2 linked regions of the Homo sapiens genome follow. The protein of the gene in region 1 interacts with the protein of each later gene in a pairwise test. Each region holds a gene or a part of one and is shown on either strand. Other genes may lie near its edges. The genes, in order: DKK4 and ITGAM.

Evidence for each region.
Region 2: the proteins of DKK4 (region 1) and ITGAM interact in binary tests that used the Homo sapiens proteins (3 or more experiments, as listed by UniProt).

What each region holds. Positions count from the first base shown.
Region 1 is NC_000008.11:42,371,366-42,383,539, reverse strand, and holds DKK4 (dickkopf-related protein 4 precursor), read left to right. Parts: upstream 1-6,310; 5' UTR 6,311-6,494; coding exon 6,495-6,605; intron 6,606-7,709; coding exon 7,710-7,860; intron 7,861-8,626; coding exon 8,627-8,779; intron 8,780-9,180; coding exon 9,181-9,440; 3' UTR 9,441-9,477; downstream 9,478-12,174. Other genes in the region: POLB (DNA polymerase beta), read right to left, coding at 11,883-11,977. UniProt on the Homo sapiens protein: Antagonizes canonical Wnt signaling by inhibiting LRP5/6 interaction with Wnt and by forming a ternary complex with the transmembrane protein KREMEN that promotes internalization of LRP5/6.
Region 2 is NC_000016.10:31,260,443-31,271,842, forward strand, and holds part of ITGAM (integrin alpha-M isoform 2 precursor), read left to right. Parts: intron 1-1,249; coding exon 1,250-1,355; intron 1,356-4,952; coding exon 4,953-5,056; intron 5,057-5,339; coding exon of another isoform or gene 5,340-5,368; coding exon 5,369-5,439; intron 5,440-5,587; coding exon 5,588-5,705; intron 5,706-10,511; coding exon 10,512-10,642; intron 10,643-11,400.

The sequences.
Region 1 (12,174 bases):
GTTGCTGCTGGAAAGGGAGGTTCCCTGCACCAGCACATTGCACAGCTCCAAAGGCGTGGGCCACGTGCATGGAACATGGTCCAAAGGTGCCTCCTGGAGCTGAGCAACTTGGAGGCCATGGCAGATGCCAGCCCAATCTCCCAGAACACTGGTGTGTAAAAGGCCCTCAAGACCAGAAGGAACTGAGGCTGAGTGTGACATGACCTGCCAGAGGCTATACCGTCTGCAAAAGTGGCTGGCACCAGCCACCCTGGCATCCCCCCTGTGCTGTCCCTGGGTGCTGCCCTTCACTCCCCAGCCTTGTGGAGGGCTGGCCTTACCTTCTGACCTCAGGGAACCAAATGGCAACATTTCTGTCATCTCTGTGATCACATCCTGCGGTTTGTCTGCCCGCCCCATCAACATGCCCCTTCTCATCTTTTATTTGATGGAATATTTCCTGTGAGATTCTGCCAAAGACCTGCTTGCTTCCGTTACTTTGATTTTGTTTTAAGGAAAGCAAAACTTATGGAAATCAAACTGGTTTTGACACAGGAGGCATAACAAATAAAAATTTCCATTCCCGAGTGAGTATAAATAATCGGTTCTGACACCCAGCCTTTGACGTGAACCACAGCAGCTGTCACGCGGGAGGACACAGGTGGCAGGTCTCAAACACGAGTCTGCAATTTTTACCCAAAGAGTGGAATCAGTGCAGAAACTGGGACCTCTGGAAATTTTTTTTTGAGAAATTTCATTTCCTCTAAGCTTAGTCAGTATTACTCGATTTTAGTGTTCCCATGAGCTAGGCGCTCACTGCAAAACTTGAAGCATCAGCCTGAAATTTTCCAGTTAACCCATAATCCTTGCCAGGGGGCATCAGTATGGCAGCACCTTGGCCAGAACTTCGCACGACGGCTTCCTTTGTTCTGTGGCTAAAGGAGTGTCTTGTGGTGCCACTTTTCAAAAGACAGCCACGGCTCCAGGTGCCGCTCAGGAGGCCTTGTGGAGTGAATTCTGTGAGGTCATTGCTGCTGTGGCCTGTGTCGTGAAACTTGTGGTCTGACCTAAGAGCAAAGAGGATGCCCTTTAAGCAGAAACATTTTTTAAGTTTTCCTCTCCACACCTGCTTCACCGTGCATCCTCTCCCCACTGCCCCATCATCTCTAGTCCCCAAATCATGGAGATGCGGGCTCCTGGCAGTAGACGCTGCCACAGGGGGGCATCTCATTTCAGTTGTTGGCATTCTCGCTGAGGGACACTGTGCAGGCAAGCAGCCTTGGGAAATCTGAAAATATACCAAATGTCATGTTCCCAAAACTACTTCACATACCTACTTTCCTCCAAAATTGCTCTGGCTTTTTAGAGACCGTAACCCTAGTCTTATTGCAAAATGAGGCCTCAGATTAAGGGAGGTTTTTCTTTGATGAGTTGTATCGAACACATGTCCATTGACAGCCTGCTAAGGCACTAAAGTCTATGGAAGATGGAAAGTTCTGGCCTGGAAAATGGATGAGAGGCATTTGTTTAGAGGTTTTTTTGTCGTGTTTTTGTTTTTGTTTTTTAGATGGAGTCTTGCTCTGTCGCCCAGGCTGGAGTGCAGTAGTGTAGTCTTGGCTCACTGCAACCTCTGCCTCCTGGGCTCAAGCAATTCTCCTGCCTCAGCCTCCCAAGTAACTGGGATTACAGGTGTGTGCCATCATGCCCAGCTAATTTTTGTATTTTAGTAGAGATGGAGTTTCACCATGTTGGCCAGGTTGGTCTTGAACTCCTGATCTCAAGTGATCCACCCTCCTCAGCCTCCCAAAGTGCTTGGATTACAGGCGTGAGCCACCGCGCCTGGCTCGAGCTCATGGTCTAGTTGTAGAGACAAAGAAGTAGGCAATTGCAGTGGGGTTTTAGAAGCGCTGTGACAGGCTGGCGTATGCACAGATCAGGGCAGACAGGGGAGAGGAGGCCCAGCTGGTAATAGAGTCAGGCCCGGCCCCAAAGCCCACATTCTGTCAGTGCTGAGACAGAGACAGAGATGGACAGACACAGACAGGCACAGGGTCGCTCTTCAGTGTTGTTCACCCCCTGTTGGTGATCCTCTGGCATCTGGTGCTTGCACCCACTCCTCTCTGTCTCTCAGAGGCAAAACGGAGAGCCTGGTTCGTGGAAGACACAATGGCTACTCTTATATCTCCACAGTAGATATCCTGCAAACAGTTGATTGTGCGGACAGCTTTTCTCAAGGCACCCTCTTATCCTGCTCCCCCAACCTGATTTTCATCCTGAATTCTCTGTCTCTAGGCCCACCTCTACCCACCCAGTGCACCAAATCAGAGAAGGCAGGATCATCCCAGCTCCTCCTCCCCTCCCTCCCCACTCCCACATCCAGTGATGCAGCTCGAACTTCAGACTCCCATCCTTTGCTTGGTTCCCATTGTCACTGTGTCACTGCCTCAAATTGGACCTCTTCATTGTCATCGGGGCAATGACAACTGAGTCCTAAGTGGCCCCCAACCTCCCCTCTCTCCCAGTGCAACCTAAGCACCATACTGCCACCAGCATTGTGCCCTGAAAGCAAATTAGATCACACCAGTGTCTTTCTTTTTCTTTCTCTTTCTTTCGTTTGTTCGTTCTTTCCTTCTTTCTTTTTCTTTCTTTCTCTCATTTTCTTTCTCTTTCTCTCTCTTTCTTTCTCCTTCCTTTCTCTCTCCTTCCTTTTTTCATTTATTTTTTCCTCCCTTCCTTCCTTCCTTCCTTCCTTCCTTTTCTTTTTCTTTCTTCCTTTCTCTCACATTCTTCCTCTTTCTCTCTCTCTCTCTCTCTTTCCACTCTCTCCTTCCTTCCTTTTTTCCTCCCTTCCTCCCTCCCTTTTTTCTTTTCTTTTCTTTTCTTTCTCTTTCTTCCTTTCTTCCTTCCTTTCTCTCACTTTCTTTCCTCTTTCTTTCTTTCTCTTTTTCTTTCTCCTTCCCTTCTCTCTCCTTCCTTCCTTTCGTTTGTCTTCCTTTCATTTTTTCTTCCTTCCTTCCTTTCACCCTTCCTTCCTCTCTTTTTTCTTTTCTTTTCTTCCTTCCTTTCTCTCTCTCTCTCCCCCTCCCTCCCTCTCTCCTTCCCTCCCTTCCTTCCTTCCTCTCTCTCTTCTTCTTTCCCTTCTTTCTTTTCTTTCTTTTTTCCTTCCTTCCTTTCTTTCTTTCTCTGTCTCTCTTTCTCTCTTTCCCTCCCTCCCTCCCTTCCTTCTTGTTGGTGGGAGGACAGGGTCTCGCTCTGTCACCCAGGCTTGAGTGCAGGGATAGGATCATGCAGCCTTGACCTCCTAGGCTCAAGCAATCCTCTTGCCTCAGCCTCCTGAATAGCTAGGACTGCAGACACGTGCCACCACACCAGGGTAATTTTTGTATTTTTCGTAGAGATGGGTTCTTGTTATGTTGCCCAGGCTGCTCTTGAACTCCTGGCTTCAAGTGATCCTCCCATCTCACCTTCCCAAGTAACAGAGACTACAGGCAAGTGCTGGCATGCCCAGGTTTTTTATTTTTTGTGGAGACAGGGTCTTGCTATGTTGTTCAGGCTGCTCCCTGGCCTCAAGTGGTCCTCTTGCTTTATCCTCCTCACGAAGTGCTGGGTACAAGCATGAGCCACTGCACCCAGCGGATCATGGCATTCTCAGTCTGATATATCTCCAATGACTTTACATTGTGCAGAGAATAGAATCTGATTTTCTTAGCATGGCATATCAGGGTCTGCATCTTGCTTCATCTCATCCTTCCATCATCTGCCGCAGCCACACAATCTCTCACTAGCACCTGAGTGCACCTCCTCCCTCTTGCACACACCTCACCCTCTGAGCCCAGGTGAGGATATCTCCGACTTCCCAACTTAGGAAGCCCCTATGCAACCAACAAAATTCAGCTCAAATATTACCTCATCTGTAAACACATTCCTTTATTTCTCTAGAAAGTCTAAATCATGCCTTCGTCTGTATTTATATCTTCATAAGTCCTCCACCCTTATATTTATACCTTTATTTTAGTGCTTGTCATAATACATTGAAATCATCCATATGTACATGTCTTCTATCTGGATCTCTCTCTCTCTCTGTGTCACCCAGGCTCTGTCATCCATACATACAAGTTTTCTGTCTGAATCTTTCTCTCTCTCTCTCTCTCTCTCTCTCTCTCTCTCTCTCTCTCTCTCTCTATATATATATATATATATATATATATAGGCTTAATCTCCTGGGCTTAAATGATTCTCCCACCTCAGCTTCCTGAGTTGCTGAAACTACAGGTGAACACCACTATGACTGGCTAATTTTTTTTTTTTTTGAGATGGAGTCTCACTCTGTTGCCGAGGCTGGAGTGCAGTGGCACCGTGTTGGCTCACTGCAACCTCGGTCTCCTAGGTTCAAACAATTCTCCTGCCTCAGCCTCCCGAGTAGCTGGGATTACAGGTGACCACCACCACGCCCGACTAGTTTTTATATTTTTAGTAGAGACAGGGTTTCACCATATTGGCCAGGCTGGTCTCGAACTCCTGACCTCAGGTGATCCATCCACCTCAGCCTCCCAAAGTGGTGAGATTACAGGCGTCAGCCACCGCACGCGGCCTACTTTTTTTTTTTTTTTTTTTTTTGTGGAGACAGGATCTCAATATGTTGCCCAGGCTCGTCTTGAACTCCTGAGCTCAGGAGATCTTCCCACCTTGGCCTCCCAAAGTGCTGGGATTACAGGTGTGAGCCACTGTGCCCGGCCATTGGAGTTTCAAATTTTATTCCTAACATGTAATCCGAGGCTCTGTTCCATGCCAAGTGCTCTAAGTGCTCAGTGGCTGTTTGTGCCGTGTTACAGGAGTTCCCGTCAGTTCTTTCGCCTGTGTATATTGCCAGGGGCCTTTGGTAACCTGAAATTCCCTTACAGTGAGGCAGCAGGAAGCAGAGAAACCCGGCAGAGACAGAACCCTGGGGGCTCTTTCCTTTATCCTTGGTCATAATTGTACAACTTGAAAATAAATTCTGTAACACCCCTAGTCACCAGGGTTATCATGCTATCAAAGGGTGTTGTTTGATGTCAGTTTAAGGGATTAAAACAAGTAACTTCCATACGAGAGGTAGACAAGCAATACCAACCCAAGGACAAGGGCCAAGTAGTAGGAAGGCTCGAATCACCTGCATCACCCTCGGAATGGCACTGCATTACTCAAAATTGAGAATGTTCCCATGCACAGAATGCTGAGATTCATGTCAATGAATTGATGTTAGGTTGTTCTGCAGGAAAATGTAGTAAATAATAAGATTATCATTTATGGCATAGAAAAAATGCATTTTAGATGACTCTATGCTAAGAGCAATGAAACAATGAAGAGAAAAAATGATTTTTTGATCCAGATCTAGATTGTTCTACCCTTAAAGTATTTAAGACAGTGATAAGCACATGTCTAAATTACCTGACTAATAGTCCAAATGGAAAAAAATCAGACAGGAAAGGGATGAAGCAGAAGTTTTAAAAAATTCGTATTAGGAAAATTGGAAATACATGAAATTTCATCTGAAATCAGCCAGAGACTTGGATCCTTGTTCTGCTTAAGTGAGTTTTACATAATGCAACACAAATTAAATATGTTGCTGATAAAATGGACCCAAAGCTTCGTACTGAATTGTGTAAAATGCGCTATCATTGTTCCCACCATTGAAAAATGGGATTTTCATAAATTACATTATTTTCCTAATAACCCTAACTTCAAACAGTTCAATTTTCATTTAAAGGAAAGTAATTTCCCAAATGGCATTTAGTCAGAACAGGTGCTGTTACGTTCACAACTTTTAAGCGGTTGGGATTTTGACATCTGGATGCCAGAGCTAATCAGGGGGCGTTTTCTCTTTTTCTATCTGTCCTCACTATCTGAAGCCCAGTTTACAGCTTCTCAGTGTATTTTGTACCTCATTAGTTTTTGGCATCCTCTATAGCATATTGGCCAGTATGATTCATCCTTTCTTTGAGCACAATTAGCTGTGAAAACAGATCTTAGGGCAGACTCCCTCCCTACCCCCAAAGGATTACTGAAGGTAGGAAATGCAGGTGATTATCAGAGTTTGCCTTTGATACAGACATCCTGCTCTGCCGTGGCCCTTTGAACTAACTTTGATATGCAATAATTAAGAGGGATTGAACCCCTGGAGGAGAAGCCGCATGGCCCTGCCTCTTCTCTCCTTCTATTGAGTCCTTGTTTTGAACTATTGATCAAACAGATTTGAAGGGATTTGTTGAAGCCTGTGTGGGGCAGGAGGAAGGAACGGAGCGGGGAGGAGGCACATCTGGTTATAAATAGTTTCAGGAGGAACCTGCTGGTCAGACTTTGCTCAGCCGATTTCACGCACCTTACTCAGACTAAGGTTTACTTCTTTCAGAAAAAGCAGTGACAAACAGACGACGTGCTGAGCTGCCAGCTTAGTGGAAGCTCTGCTCTGGGTGGAGAGCAGCCTCGCTTTGGTGACGCACAGTGCTGGGACCCTCCAGGAGCCCCGGGATTGAAGGATGGTGGCGGCCGTCCTGCTGGGGCTGAGCTGGCTCTGCTCTCCCCTGGGAGCTCTGGTCCTGGACTTCAACAACATCAGGAGCTCTGCTGACCTGCATGGGGCCCGGAAGGTAAGGCTGCTAGGGAGGGGGGCGAGGTACGGGACTGCTGACAGCTGGGGTGTTTTGTTTAGGCTTTAGTAAGTCATTCTGATTCATGTATGAAATGTCTTACCTAGCAGGTAAATTGAATTGGTTTCGGATTTGGGAGGGCATCCTGGTAGGATCAGTGGCCTTAGTGTGAATGTATGAAATAAACACAGTGGCTTTTCACATCATTCGGCCATACGTTTGTCTATAAATCACGAAATAAACGAACACTTTGGAAGCTCTACTATGTGCCAGCTCTTTTACATGTAATACGTCATGTACTCTTCCTCACAATTTGAGATAGGTGAAACATTCCCTAATTCCAGATGAGGAAATAAGACTCAGAGATGTTGAAGAGCTTACCCAAGCTCACACAGCCAGCAAGCAAACATGGGAATGAGAATTTAAACAGAGGGCCATGATGCATTGCCTTGTCACCATCTAACTTCACAGAGAGAGTTGTTTTAGGAATCGCTTTATGTATGTGTATATGTTATTATATATCGTATAGATTATTACATATATCATATATGCTACACCTACGTTGTATGTCTATGTAGAAGCATCAACTGTGTATGAGAACAATTGATCTTCGGTATCTCTTTCTCTATGTCAATGAGGCATCATTGAAAATCAAAGGACAGTTCACTTAGGGAAGGGTCTCTAAGCTAAATGTGATTCACTAGAGTAAAAAATCAAATAGGAATGCCACAAACATCAATAGTATGTTTAATGAAACTGTAGCCAGCTTCTAGAGTTAAGATATATTGAAAATCTCATACTCACCTGTTAAGACACACATAGGAAAACATTTTTTCCCATTTTCACAAAGAGCACAGGAAAACTAAATTCTGAGTTAAGTCAATTTTTCAAACTCAAATAGCCTTTGCAGCGCCTAGGTCTCCCCGGGTGACATGAGCTTCCCTTTGTGGGAGAAAACCATTTCCACTGGAGAGTAAGATGCTGCCCAGGGTTTGTCACAGCGCCACTGTCCTTTGGCTCCCTCCGCCTCCTGCCTTCAATAATAAGTCATCTTCCATCGTGTTGGGGGTTTCCTAGCCTTGTGATAACAGATTCCCTCCACAGGGCTCACAGTGCCTGTCTGACACGGACTGCAATACCAGAAAGTTCTGCCTCCAGCCCCGCGATGAGAAGCCGTTCTGTGCTACATGTCGTGGGTTGCGGAGGAGGTGCCAGCGAGATGCCATGTGCTGCCCTGGGACACTCTGTGTGAACGGTGAGCGACATAACGCCAACAGTGGTTTTTAAACCGAAGGTAGTGTCTAAGCCCCATAGACTAGAATATTCCAGGGTAGGCACTCTCTAATGGTGCTTCCTAGATTCATGCTTGAAGTAAATGTATGCAGCTGCCTTTTCTTTTCCTTTTTTTTTTTTTTCTGAGGCGGAGTTTCGCCCTTGTTGTCCACAGCTCACTGCAGCCTCGGCCTCCGGGTTCAGGTGGTTCTCCTGCCTCAGCCTCTGGAGTAACTAGGACTACAGGCATGTACCACCATGCCCGGCTAATTTTTGTTATTTTTAGTAGAGATAGGGTTTCACCATGTTGGTCAGGCTAGTCTCGAACTTCTGACCTCAGGTGATCCACCTACCTCGGCCTCCCAAAGTGCTGGGATTACAAGCGTAAGCCACCGGACCCGGCTTGCCTTTTCTTAATGAAACAAAATAATTTATTTCCTGGCAACAGCTCTTGCCAATGACTTGGAGATAATGATTTTAAAGGAAAGACTCAAGTTGTAATCATTCAAATACTTCCATTTCCACTTGGATACCATTAACTACCTTTAATGGAATGCAATTTCCACTTAGCTACTTTCTCTGCCACATGCGAGCATGTAAATATTTAGCACATGTTCCAGAAATCTAGAAAGTTATATATAAACTGAAGGCAGAGGTGCTGCCAAACTATGCAACAGTAGGATAATTAGTGTGTCTGTGGTTCTCCCCCTTGAAGTTAATAATTCTAGTTACACCTGGTTGTCCCTCAGATGTTTGTACTACGATGGAAGATGCAACCCCAATATTAGAAAGGCAGCTTGATGAGCAAGATGGCACACATGCAGAAGGAACAACTGGGCACCCAGTCCAGGAAAACCAACCCAAAAGGAAGCCAAGTATTAAGAAATCACAAGGCAGGAAGGGTAAGAACAGCATTCGCAGCATATTTTATTTCAGAAATGCATTTTCTCCTCCCAGCCTCTTAAGGATAGGGTGAGACTGATTTTATTCTTCTCCATCCCAGAAACACTTAGGAAGCATGTGCTGTTTGTTATCTCTTTCTGTAAGAAGCTGTGGGGGTCACGTAGAGAGTAGCCTAAGGTAGTCTGCAGCCAGTAACAACGATCAATTCTGATGGGTAGGGGTGGAGTCGCCATGGCATTACTGCTTTTAGCGTAACACCTAGCTCTGTGAGACCTGCGTGCTGTGTCTGTTTTTACTTTGTGGCTGTCAGTCATAGGTCCCATTCCCTTATCCCAGTAGCAAACCCCCAGCAGGCCACTTTCCTTATTTATCACTAAAGCCCACATTAACCTTGTTACAGGACAAGAGGGAGAAAGTTGTCTGAGAACTTTTGACTGTGGCCCTGGACTTTGCTGTGCTCGTCATTTTTGGACGAAAATTTGTAAGCCAGTCCTTTTGGAGGGACAGGTCTGCTCCAGAAGAGGGCATAAAGACACTGCTCAAGCTCCAGAAATCTTCCAGCGTTGCGACTGTGGCCCTGGACTACTGTGTCGAAGCCAATTGACCAGCAATCGGCAGCATGCTCGATTAAGAGTATGCCAAAAAATAGAAAAGCTATAAATATTTCAAAATAAAGAAGAATCCACATTGCATTTGAGCTCAATCTTGGACATTAACTTTAAAATGCTTCCATACAGATCTCTCTTAAAATCAAATCTTGTAGCAAGTGAAATAGCCTGAAACTAGAGAACTAAGAGATGGCGACCTTGTGATGAATGAAACTAGCTTTAGCCTTTTGTCCGTTTTTCCAGAAAACTGATGGGACTCTGTAACCAAAAAAATTATTTCTAATCTAGGGACTCAATTAATTCAAATCTTTAAGAATTGAAGCCAGGCATGGTGGCTCACGCCTGTAATCCCAGCACTTTGGGAGGCAGAGGTGGGTGGATCACGAGGTCAAGAGTTTGAGACCAGACTGGCCAACACTGTAAAACCCTGTCTCTACTAAAAAATACAAAAAATTAGCTGGGCATGGTGGCAGATGTCTGTAATCCCAGCTACTCGGGAGGCTGAGGCAGAAGAATTGCTTGAACCCGGGAGGCGGAGGTTGCAATGAGCCAAGATCGCACCATTGCACTCCAGCCCGGGTGACAGTACGAGACTCGGTCTCAAAACAACAACAACAACAACAACAACAACAACAACAAAGAATTGAAATTGTATATATTTAAAGTGTACTGTGTGAGTTTTGAAATACATATACTATAACCGAGCCACATCTCTCTCTCCAAATAAATCTTTAAACAATTTCTGGTGAAGGGTTGGTGCCTGACAGTATCCTAGGGGGTAAAAAATGATAGCATCTGAAGTTAAAAGTAAATTAATTCTTACATCTTACCAGGAAAATTATCACAGCAAATACTATATTTTTCCTTAATAACTCTATTGTTTATTTCCATTCATTTCTTAGAAGGGAAATGGCATTTCACTACAAAATAATTTGGTTAATAAAGAAGTTTCAAGATATCTTATGTTTGTATAGTCCTTTGCAAGTTATAAAGCATTTTCACGTTTTCAGTAGCTTTACTTACCATTTGATAACTTTGTATATTTTATATTTATATAATTTTAATATTTGAAAGGCAGGGCTTTCAAGGAGTGTTTTTACTTACACATTTTGACCACTTGTGCTTAAAAGCCCAGAGGAGAACTCGGGCAAAAAAGTGAAATTTTTGTTTGTTTGAAGTTTAAAAGGGCTGTATTTTGTGCATAGAAGTGGTTGTGCTTAGGGGAGCTCTTTCTAGTGGATTTCAAGCAAGTGCTACAGATTTAAGAGATAAATCATACACCTGTTTTTCTATTCAGGTTATAAGTTTATATTACAAGATTCAATGATATGGTTTGGACGTTTATCCCCTCCGTATCTCATGCTTGAAATGTGACCTCCAGTATTGGAGGTGGGGCCTGGTGGGAGGTGACTGGACCATGGGGGCGGATTCCTCCTGAATGGCTCAGCACCATCCCCTTGGTGATGAGTGAGTTCTGTTAGTTGACACAAGATCTGGTTGTTTAAAAGTGTGGCACCTCCTCTCTCTCTCTCGCTCCTGCTTTCACCATGTGAAGTGCCTGCTCCCACTTCATCTCCCAGCATGAGTAAAACCTTCCTGAGGCCTCCCAAGAAGCTTAGCAGATGCCAGTGCCATGCTTCCTATACAGTCAGCAGAACCATGAGCCAATTAAACCTTTTTCCTTCATAAACTACCCAGTCTCCAGTATTCTTTTAGAGCAATGCAAGAATGGACTGACACAATCAAATATGGGCCCAACAAAAAACTAAATTTATGAAGGTCCCTAGTTTATTTTTTTGAGATGGAGTCTCACTCTGTCGCCCAGACTAGAGTACACTGGTGTGATCTTGCCTCACTGCAACCTCCGCCTCCCGGGTTCAAGCAATTTTCCCACCTCAGCCTCCTAAGTAGCTGGGATTACAGGCATATGCCACCACCCTCAGCTAATTTTTGTATTTTTGGTAGAGACAGGGTTTCACCATGTTGGCCAGGCTGGTCTCCAACCGCTGACCTCAGGCGACCCACCTGCCCCAGCCTCCCAAAGTACTGGGATTACAGACATGAACCACCGTGCCCCGCCCCCCCCCAGTTTCTAGAAAATATTGAACAGTCTTCCAGAGGCTAGTCTCTGGGTGTACCTTAATTAACAATTTTTGATCAGTAAGTAGGGGTAATGTGGTTTATAGCATAGAGCAGAATATGAGAAAATAAAAATTCCCATTAAAGATCTGCTATCATCTCATATTTCTCTCTACAAAACCCATAGTAAAGTATGATCATGAACACAATATGAAAATTTAAACTAAACATACTTGCTAAGAAAATAAGATCATCATCATCCAATAATAGTACATGAGGTTTTATTGACTACATTGCAAGCAAAAGCATGAAGAAGAAACAATCATTTAAAAACACCAAAGACCCTTACATAGCAAAGGTTAAGAAATAAATTAAGACTCCTATTGGGTTGTGTCTGCCAGGGAGGATACAGGCCTCATTCGCTCCGGTCCTTGGGTTCCCGGTATTTCCACTGGATGTAATCAAAGATGTCTTTTTCACTATCCACTGGCAGGGGTTCTCCTGCAACTCCTGCAAGTACAGAGAGAAAAACTTATTGTAAGAACCAGTTTTATAGTTTAGTTATAGAGGGTTCAAGATTAAGAGCTGTGTGGGACTTGCTTTCAGAAGAAAAAAGAAAATGGTAACCAAGTCACTAAAAAAAAAAAGACCGGCGGATGTGGTAGCTCACGCCTGTAATCCCAGCAATTTGGGAGGCCGAGGCAGGT
Region 2 (11,400 bases), on another chromosome or scaffold:
TCTCCACTTTGCCTCCGGTTCTATTTTCCAAGGTCCCGGGTGCAAATGTTTGTTGAATGACTGATGAATGAAAATGATTTGAGTTTGTTACCTTTTATGCTTATATGTTGTGGAAAATGAAATTCTCCTCAAAAGGGAAGGAAATACTTGAGAGCTGCATAGGAAGGAAATTATCTAATTAAGAATGTATAGAAACTTCACTGTTGGGCAAATCATCGTTGTGACACCGGGGGAAGAAGCCATTTAGGTGCTCAGAAGGGAGGCTGGAATTCAGAGCAGGACTGGACGTGCCCCACGACGGTGGTTCTTAGGTCAGGAGTCAGCAAACAGTGGCCTGGGGGCCCGATATGGCCCACGACCTGTTTTTGCACAACCTGCCAGCTAGAGATTGAAGATGAACACTGATAATCGATTTGATGATAGGGAGCACCACCCCCAAAGAATTCTATTTGTCTCATTTGTAAACCCGTATTACAAACAAATTGTACTCAATCATTATGTTTGAAATTTCCCTAATGACAAATTTGTGGAAAAGTATTTTCTGTCTTGTTATATAAGTACTTGTACAACATATTCTATCAGCCTCTTGGTCTGCAAAACCTAAAATTTACTATCTGGCTGTTTACAGAATAAGTGTGCTAATCCCCGCCCCAGGCTAACAGAGCTGGACCTGGGAGGCAGACATCTGGATGCTGGGTTAGTTAGGGTGACCGAATGGATGGGAAAGGGAATGGAGCAGGAAGACATGCTGCTATCTTTTTTTTTTTTTTTTTTTTTTGATACAGGGTCTTTCTCTGTTGCCCAGGCTGTAGTGCAGTGGCATGATCATGGTTCACTGCAGCCTTGACCTCCTGGGTTCAAGCAATCCTCCCACCTCAGCCTCCTGAGTACCACTACACCCGGCTAATTTTTTATTTTTTGTAGAGATGGGGTCTCACTGTGTTGCCTAGGCTGGTCTTAAACTCCTGAGCCCAGGTGATCCTCCCACGTCAGCCTCTTAAATTATTGGGATAACAGGCCTGAGCCACCACACCCAGCCATTGCTTTCTTTTAAATTATTATTAGTTTTTGTTTTTTTTTTGTATTTAATTTTGAGATAGGATCTCTCTCTGTTGCTCAGGCTGGAGTGCAGTGGCACAATCAGGGCTCAAGTGATCCTCCTGCCTCAGCCCTCCAAAGTGCTAGGACTACAGCCCCTAACTGGCATGCTACTTTCCTCTGCTTGATCCTTCCCCCATTCTCCCTTTAGCCTTGACCTTATGTCATGGGTTCAACTTGGACACTGAAAACGCAATGACCTTCCAAGAGAACGCAAGGGGCTTCGGGCAGAGCGTGGTCCAGCTTCAGGGATCCAGGTGAGACCCTTAGATGGAGCCCCCTTTCTCAGTGCTTTCTCTCCAAGACTTACATACCTGAAAAAAATCAGCGATTTGAGTGATCTTTTTCAACAGATAAATCAATTCAAAATATACAACAAATTCATCTTTTGAATTTACAGTATTCTAAATTCAAAAGATGCAAAAGGGTGTAAGAGTAAAAATCTCTTCCTTACTCCCTTCCCCTAGTTCCCTTCCCAGGAGGGACCTCACAAATGGTTTCCTGGGTGTTCCTTCGGGGAGACTCTGTGTGTGCATAACACATACACGTTCCCTCCCTCAGCCAACACACCATGTGTAGTATACATTGTACTGAAATTAAGGCCTGCCTGCAGGCTGCCGCCTATTTTTGTGAATGAATTTTATTGAAAACAACTCCGTCCACTTGTCTCTTACTGTTTATTGCCCTTCCCTCCCTTCCTCCCTTCCTTCCTTCCTTCCTTCTTTCCTTCCTTCCTTCCTCCCTCTCTCATTCCCTGCTTCCCTCTTTCCCTCCTTCCCTCCCTTCCCTCCCTTCCATCCTTCCTTCCTTCCTTCCTTCCTTCCTTCCTTCCTTCCTTCCTTCCTTCCTTCCTTCCTTCCTTCATTTCTTTCTTTCCTTTCTGACATGGTCTTGTTCTGTCATTCAGCCTGGAGTGCACAGGTGAAATCATAGCTCACTGTAGACTCAAACTCCTGGGCTCAAGCAATCCTCCCACCTTAGCCTCCTGAGTAGCTGGGACTACAGGCATGTGCCACCACACCTGGCTAATTTTTTGATTTTTTTTGTATAGACGAGGTCTCACTCTGTTGCCCAATCTGGTCTCAAACTCCTGGCCTCAAGTCATCCTCTTGCTTGGGCCTCCCAACTTGCTGGGATGATAGGTGTAAACCACTGTGCCTGGCTATGGCCACTTTTGAGCTGTAATGGCAGAATTCAGGAGCTGTGATAGAGATTGTATGGACCCTGAAGCCTAAAACATTTACCTTTACAGAAACAGTAATTGTGGAGGTGATAGTACCTTTCCAGAAGAAGGGGGCTGGTCTCTGCTCTTTGCTTTATCTCCCATAATACAGCCCAGTGATTTGAGTCCATTAATCCCATGTTATGCTTGCATTGCATGCCATAATTGGGAGATGCTATAATTTATTTTATTTTATTTTTTTAGAGACTCCCTCTGTCGCCCAGGCTGGAGTGCAGTGGCATGATCTTGGCTCACTGCGACTTCTGCCTCCTGGGTTCAATCGATTCTCCTGCCTCAGCCTCCTGAGTAGCTTGGATTGCAGGTGCCTGCCACCACGCCTGGCTAATTTTTGTATTTTTGTAGAGACAGGGTTTCACCATGTTGGCCAGGTTGGTCTTGAACTCCTGAGCTCAGGTGATCCACCTGCCTCGGCCTCCCAAAGTGCTGGGATTACAGGCTTGAGCCACCGTGCCTGGCTTGTAATCTCCTTTTACATTACATTAGATCTCTTGTTAATGAACATTTAGATTGTTCCCAAACTTTTGCTCTATGAACAATGCTGTCATTTTGCACATGTGCAAGCCTATTTGGAAGTAAAGGCTAGGACTGGGATTGTGGTATCCACGGGTGCATGAGCACGTGCAATTTTAATAGATTTTTCCAGATCCCCCTCTACAGTGGTGGCAGCAATTTACACTCACACCAGAAATTCATGAAAATACCTACTTCCTCATACTCCCTCACTCATTTGCCAACTCAGTGTGCTATCAAACTTACTGATCTCTGCAGATCGAGTAGGTGAGAAGTGGTATCTTAATTTAGCTTTAAATTGCTTCTTTTTTTTTTATGAGAGAGGCATTTTCTGTGAACATGTTTTTCTTATCTGTTGGCCATTTTTCTTTCTTTTTTTTTTTTTTTACTAGTTTGTACAAGCTTTGAGTACACTGAGGAAAGTAGTCTGGGGTATGAGTTGTGAAGCTCTCTCCCTTGTGTATTATTTTTCTTTTGAGTATGCTTATGGTAGTTTATCACATACAAAAATTTATTTATTTATTTATTTATTTATTTATTTATTTATTTATTTATTTATTGAGATGGAGTCTCGCTTTGTCGTCCAGGCTGGAGTGCAGTGGAGTGATCTCGGCTCACTGCAACCTCTGCCTCCTGGGTTCAAGCGATTCTCCTGCCTCAGCCTCCCGAGTAGCTGGGACTACAGGTGCGTGCCACCACGCCTGGCTAATTTTTTTGTATTTTTAGTAGAGATGGGGTTTCACCATGTTAGCCAGGATGTTCTCGATTTCCTGACCTCGTGATCCACTTGCCTCGGCCTCCCAAAGTGCAGGGATTACAGGTGTGAGCCACTGCGCCTGGCCCAGAAATTTATTGAAAATGACTGTGTGGAGGCTGGGTGCAGGGGCTCACGCCTGTAATCCCAGCATTTTGGGAGGCCGAGCTGGGCTGGTCGCTGGAAGCCAGGAGTTCGAGACTACCCTGGCCAACATAAGGAAACCTCATCTCTACTAAAAATACACAAATTAGCCAAGCATGGTGGCACACACCTGTAATCCCAGCTACTCAGGAGGTTGAGACAGGAGGAATGCTTGAACCTGGGAGGCAGAGGTTGCAGCAGTGAGCCGAGATTGCACCACTATACTCCAGCCTGGGTGATGGAGTGAGAATCTGTTTCAAAGAAAGAAAATAAATAAAAATAAAAATAAATAAAATGACTGTGTGGGCCGGGTCCAGTGGCTCATGCCTGTAATTCTAACACTTTGGGAGACTGAGGTGGAAGGATTGTTTGAGCCCAGGAGGCAGAGGTTGCAGTGAGCTATGATTATGCCACTGGACTCCATCTTGGGCAACAGGGTGAGACCCTGTCTCAAAGAAAAAAAAAAAATGGTTGGCCTGGGACTACAGGTGTGTACCACCATACCTGGCTAATTTTTAAAAACATTTTTTGTAGAGATGGGGTCTGGCTATGTTACCCGGGCTAGTTTCAAACTCCTGGCCTCAAATGATGCTCCTGCCTCAACCTCCCAAGGTGCTGGGATTAAAGGCATGAGCCATGGTGCCCAGCTTGAATTGACCTATTTTTATTTTTAAAATTTATTCATTTATTTTTTGGGACAGAGTCTTGCCCTGTCTCTCAGGCTGGAGTGCAGTGGTGCTATCTCGGCTCACTGCAACCTCTGCCTCCTGGGTTCAAGCAATTCTCTTGCCTCAGCCTCCCATTTAGCTGGGATTACAGGTACGCACCACCACGTGTGGCTAATTTTTTGTATTTTTAGTAGAGGCGGGGTTTCACCATGTTGCCCAGGCTGATCTTGAACTCCTGAGCTCAGGCAATCCACCCCCTTGGCCTCCCAAAGTGCTAGGATTACAAGCATGAGCCACCGCGCCTGGTCCTATTTTTAAATGACTTCTGGTTTTTGTGTCATTCTTAGGAAGACCTTTTCTCATTCTGAGTCTTAACATTTTCCCATTTTTTTCTTTGCTAATTCTTCCTCCTAGTCATAGGAATTTAGGAATCCGGGTATGGGCCCCCACCGTCCTCTGGGTGGCAGAACTTCCTCTGTGGTCTCCTTCTCTCCCCACATGTCGAAGTTTTCTCTGTTCCCACTTCTCCCCACAGGGTGGTGGTTGGAGCCCCCCAGGAGATAGTGGCTGCCAACCAAAGGGGCAGCCTCTACCAGTGCGACTACAGCACAGGCTCATGCGAGCCCATCCGCCTGCAGGGTGAGTCACTGCCCCGCCGGGCTGGGACTGGGATTCCCCTGTGAACACATAGGGACTTTCCAGGCACTCCTGTGTCCTGGGGATCTGTGGTGGGGACACAGGTGCCTGCCTCCGTACCCTCTCCTCTGCCTGCAGTCTCTACCCTAGACATCCCCAGGCAACCCCTCTGTGTTCCTTTCTTTCCCAAGATTTAGGATCCCCCTTCACCGTCAGACCTCCTTGTCTCCCGCATGGAGGTGACCCCTGCCCAGCTCTTCCACAGCCTTCTCTGTCCCCCCACCAGGGTGACCATGCCCATATCTGTCCCCGCAGTCCCCGTGGAGGCCGTGAACATGTCCCTGGGCCTGTCCCTGGCAGCCACCACCAGCCCCCCTCAGCTGCTGGTGAGTGGGGCTCGATCAGAGGAGCATCCTAATGGGGGTGTTTGGGGGCCCACGCATGGTGGGGCTGGGGGTCTTGTGGAGGGTGGAGGTGCTGGGGTACAAGGACAGGAAGCAGGGGCAGCCCCTTCCACTGGCTCCTGTCCCCTAGGCCTGTGGTCCCACCGTGCACCAGACTTGCAGTGAGAACACGTATGTGAAAGGGCTCTGCTTCCTGTTTGGATCCAACCTACGGCAGCAGCCCCAGAAGTTCCCAGAGGCCCTCCGAGGTGGGTTGCCTTTGGCAGAGGGAACAGATGCGCAGCAAAAGACCAGGGGAGGGGGCAGGACTGAGGTGACGTCTGCTCAAGGTCTGGGCTCTGGGTGCAGAAGAGTGGGGGAACTGGGTCCCATTAGAGTCAGAAGCTAGGGAGGTGCTAGGGTCTTGTACTTTAGGAAAACGCCTTGGCTAGGCACAGTGGCTCATACCTGCAATCCCAAAGCTTTGGGAGCCCAGGAGCTTGAGATCAGCCTGGGCAATGTAGTGAGATCCTGTCTCTAAAAAAAAAAAAAAAAAAAATTAGCTGAGTGTGGTGATGAGCACCTGTAGTCTTAGCTATTTGGAGGCCAAGGTGGGAAGATTGCTTGAGGCCACAAGTTCAAGGCAAGCCTGGGCAACATAGGGAGATCCCCGTCTCTACAAAAAAAAAAAAAAATTAGCCAGGCGTGGTGGCACACACCTGCAGTCCCAGCTACTCAGGAGGATCACTTGAGCCTGGGAAGTTGAAGCTGCAGCAAGTTATGATTGCACCACTGTACTCCAACCTGGGTGACAGAGCAAGACCCTGTCTTTAAAAAATAAGTCCAGGTCACACTGCAGAGGAGGGGATGGTGCAAGGTGTCATTGGCAAGAGGTGGGAATCTTGGGGACCATCCTGGGGGGCGGCCTTCCACACCCCTGTTCCCCAAACCTCTGTTGATTGAGATTCTGAGTGACTGTATGGATTTTTTTTTTTTTTTTTTTTTTTGAGGCAGAGTCTCGCTCTGTCACCCAGGCTGGAGTGCAGTGGCACGATCTTGGCTTACTGCAACCTCTGCCTCCCAGGTTCAAGCGATTCTCCTGCCCCATCTTCCCAAGTAGCTGGGATTACAGGTGCCCGCCACCACACCCGGCTAATTTTTGTATTTTTAGCAGAGACGGGGTTTCACCATGTTGGCCAGGCTGGTCTCGAACTCCTGAGCTCTGGTGATCTGCCCACCTTGGCTTCCCAAAGTGCTGGGAATGAGCCAGGGAATGAGTGGGGGGCATGAGCCACCATGCCTGGCCAGAGTGCGTGGATCTTTCAAGCTGCTTTTTCCCACTGCTTTGTTCGATGGCTATGCCATCTTTTTGCTTGTCTTCATGTTGATTCTGGGACCACAGGCGAATGTTTCTCCCTTGCATTTTTTTTCTTTCTCAAGCCCTGTTCCTCTATATTTCACCCTCCACAGTTAATCCTCCTTCCTCCACAGAGAAAACAAAAGCTTCAGGCATGGACTCCCTCCACTTTCCCCTTCTCTTATTTTATCTTAATAAGCGGTTTTCCAGTCTTCACTGGAATTTGTTGACAAATTCTAAAGGAGCTGTAACACCGCACTTTCTCCTTTTTCTCAAATTTCCATAATGACAGCACTCCTGGCAGTGACTCACTCGTTTTAGAGGAAGACCTGTCTCTCCTCTGTCCCATGACTAAATTCTTCCATATGGGCTTTTGAGAGTCTCTCATGCACCAACTAAGGTGATCACCTATCTTTCTTTTTTCTTTTTTTTTTGGAGACAGGGTCTTGCTCTGTCACCTAAGCTGGAGTGCAGTGGCACAATCTCGGCTCACTGCAGCCTCTGCCTCCTGTGCTCAAGAAATTCTTGTGCCTCCGCCTCCAGAGTAGCTGGGATCACAGGTGCGCATATACTGATTTTTGTATTTTTTGTAGAGATGGGGTTTCACCTTGTTGCCCAGGCTGGTCTCGAATTCCTGGGCTCAAGAGATCTTCCCACCTCAGCCTCCCACAGTGCTGGGATCACAGGTGTGAGCCACTGCGCCTGGCCCAGCATCTCTTGAATCACTTGTTTTCTCTCTAGGACAATTAACTTCCCCCTTCCTCTGGCTGTAAACACTCTTCATTCTATCTGTATCTGAAAAGCAATCAACCACCACAATCGATAGCCATGAAAACAATCTTCTCTCTTCCAGTCTCCTCCTCATCTCCTGCCATCTCTCCTCACCCTCACCACCCAAGCTTCCTGAGTGCATTCTCTTCACCCCCGGCTGGCCTCCAGCTTCCCTCTCCACCTAGGGGCACTGGGTTCTGGGTTCTCTTTTCACCCACGTGTTCTTCTTTCCTGAAATCACCCAGTTCTGTGGCTTCAGCTAACACTTCTACCTCTCCCTCTTTAGACCTCACTCTCAGGGTTCAAGACTACTTCTTTAAAAAAGTTTTCATTTATTAAAAAATATATAATACATACACTTGGTTCAAAATTCGAAAGGGTGCGGTAGCTCACACCTGTAATTCCAGCACTTTGGGAGGTCAAGGCAGGAGGATTGTTTGAGGCCAGGAGTTTGGGACCAGCCTAGACAACATAATGAGACCCCATCTCTACAAAAAATGCAATTAGCCAGGCATGGTGGCGTGTGCCTGTGGTCTTAGCTATTCAGGAGGCCTCCCAAAGTGCTGGGGTTACAGGCATGAGCCACTGTGCCCTGCCAGTCTTTCTAAAATACAAAACAAATCATCTCACTTCCTTTTCTAAGAACCTTCTGTGGCTCCCCATTGCCTACAGATAAAGTCGAGCTCCTTATTGGAGTAGAAAGGCCCTTGCCCGCTGCTCTTTGCTTGATGCCACCGCTGTGTCTCCATCGCCGTCACATACGTTTGTCCCTGTAGTGCTGTTTCCATCAAACGGCATTCCTGGATTCTGCCAGAATCCTTTTGAGGCCCTTGTCCCATATATCAGTAGGAGTCTCAACTGGGACCAAAAGCACATTCCAGTAATGTAACTGCCCAAGGGGTTCACCTTGCTTGCTGCCTAGACAGAGCCGATTCATCAAGACAGCAGAATTGCGATAGAGAAAGAATAATTCACACAGAGCCAGCTATGCAGGGGACCAGAGTTTTATTATCACTCGAATCAGTCTCCTCGAGCATTTGGGGGCAGAGTTTTTGAGGATAACTTGGTAGGTCGCGGGGGAAGCCAGTGAGCTGGGAGTGCTGATTGATCAGGGATGAAATCATCGGGAGTCGGAGCTGTCTTCTTGCGTTCAGTTGGTTCCTGGGTGGGGGCAGCAAGATCGGATGAACCAGTTTATTGATCTGGGCAGTGCCAGCTGATCCATCAAGTGCAAGGTCTGCAAAATATCTCAAGCACTGATTTTAGGAGCAGTTTAGGGAGGGTCAGAATCTTGTAGCCTCCAGCTGCATGACTCCTAAATCATAATTTCTCATCTTGTGGCTAACGTTAGTCCTACAAAGGCAATCTAGTCCCCAGGTAAGAAGGAGGTCTGCTTTGGGAAAGGGCTGTTACGATCTTTGTTTAAACTATAAACTATAAACTATAAACTAAGTGTCTCCCAAAGTTAGCTCAGCCTACACCCAGGAATGAACACGGACAGCTTGGAGGTTAGAAGCAAGATGGAATCAGTTAAGTTAGATCTCTTTCACTGTCTCAGTCATAATTTTGCAAAGGCGGTTTCAGTAAGATTTATTTACAAAGAGGGGGGTTTATTTATAAAGGGAGTAATTATAAAGCTGTGACAGGCCTAAGGGAGCCATCAGGGACTTTCCAAGCCCTGGGCAAGCAGGTCTGTTGCCACCCCTGGGTTTATGGGTTGAGGAGAGGGAGAGCTCACCAGGGTCTGGAGAGAGTCATGTGGAGCTGGCTTCCTTCTGAGGAACAGTTGGTCTTTTGTGAAGGACATAGCTGTCCCCAAACAACCTCAATGGGAGAACACCCGGACCTCACTGCCCTCCTCCCTCTAGTCTTCTGTTGAGCCCCCTCATCTGCCAAATCCAATGGGAATCCAGAGGGCAACAGAGTCCTGGTGATGGGGTCCCTGCAGGTTGACCTCCCAGGCCACAGAGCTGAGCGGCAATGGGTAGAAAGTGGATTTGGGGATGGGGCAGAAGGCAGAGGAGCACATTCCACATCACTTTATATGTGTGTGCCCTTCCCTTTTCTAGAATCTACTCCTTTTGTATATCTGGCAAATCCTTCCTTCCTTCCTTCCTTCCTTCCTCCTTTGCTTTCCTTTCCTTTCCTTTCCTTTCCTTTCCTTTCCTTTCCTTTCCTTTCCTTTTTTTCTTCCTTTCTTCCTTTTCTTCGAAGTCTTGCTCTGTGACCCAGGCTGGAGTGCAGTGGTGCGATCTCAGCTACTTTTTGTATTTTTAATAGAGATAGGGTTTCACCATGTCAGCCAGGCTGGTCTCAAACTCCTGATCTCAAGTGATCCACCTGCCTCAGCCTCCCAAAGTGCTGGGATTACAGGTGTGAGCCACCTCGCCCAGCTGGGCAAATTATTTCCTGTTCTTCAAGATTCAGTCAAACATCACCACATTCCCTGATTCCCTTGGGCAGAATTAACGAAAATTTTCCATACCACTTTGTCCTTGTTTATTTACTTATTTATTTATTTTTAAGAGACAGGGTCTTTCTCTGTGGCCCAGGCTGGAGTGCAATGGCGTGATCATAGCTCACTGAAGCCTCAACCTTTTGGGCTGAAGTGATCCCCCACCCTCAGCCTCCTGAGTAGCTGGGACTACAGGCATGTGCCAACATGCCTGACTAATTTTTAACGTGTGTGTGTGTATATATATATATATATATATATATATATATATATATATATATATGTTTTTAACGTGTGTATACATATATATATATACACACACGTTAAAAATTATATATATATTATACATAATTTATATATATATTTAACATCTATATTTTTTATAGAGACGGGGTCCTATATTCTCATTGTTCAGCAGAGGGCTGACATGCAAAAAAACCCAAAACACCAAGTGTCAAATTACTTGATTCATACTCTTTTCCCCTTCCCCAGGGTGTCCTCAAGAGGATAGTGACATTGCCTTCTTGATTGATGGCTCTGGTAGCATCATCCCACATGACTTTCGGCGGATGAAGGAGTTTGTCTCAACTGTGATGGAGCAATTAAAAAAGTCCAAAACCTTGGTGAGGGCCCAGGGGTAGGTTAGGGAAGAGCCCACACGGGGCTGGAAGATACATGGCAACCGGGCCACCATGTTCTCCTCCCAGTTCAACTGCAGACATTGCCAAATTGACGATCGATTATGGTTTGCCTTCCTGAGTCTCTTTTCTGCTCTGTTGGATGCAGCCTCAGCATTCTTTCAGCCTTTTATAAAGCGGGCAGCTCTAATTGTTAAGGTTGGCATGGGAGATGAAGCCCACGTGTCATTGCTGGCTGAGTTCTATTTTCATTTTTATTTCTTATTTTTTTGAGACAGAATCTCACTCTTTCTCTCAGGCTGGAGTGCAGTGGTGTGATCTTGGCTCACTGCAACCTCCGCCTCCCGGGTTCAAGCAATTCTCTTGCCTCAGCCTCCCGAGTAGCGGGGATTACAGGCGCATGCCACCATGCCTGGCTAGTTTTTGTATTTTTAGTAGAGACGGGGTTTCACCATTTTGGCCAGGCTGGTCTCAAACTCCTGACCTCAGGTGATCCACCCGCCTCGGCTTCCCAAAGTGCTGGGATTACAGGTGTGAGCCACTGCTCCCGGCCGCTGGCCGTGTTCTAGTATTGAGGAGAGATGGGAGCTGCTGGCAGCTCTCCGTCCTGGTGAGGCAGGGGATTAGGGGCAGCACAGAGGAGGAATTTGGAGAGTGGAGTGTTTAAGATCTTCGTGGAGCTTGCTGGGAGATGTCTGAGGGGTGGGGGCACCTTCTCCAGCATCACACCAGCCGCCCCCTCC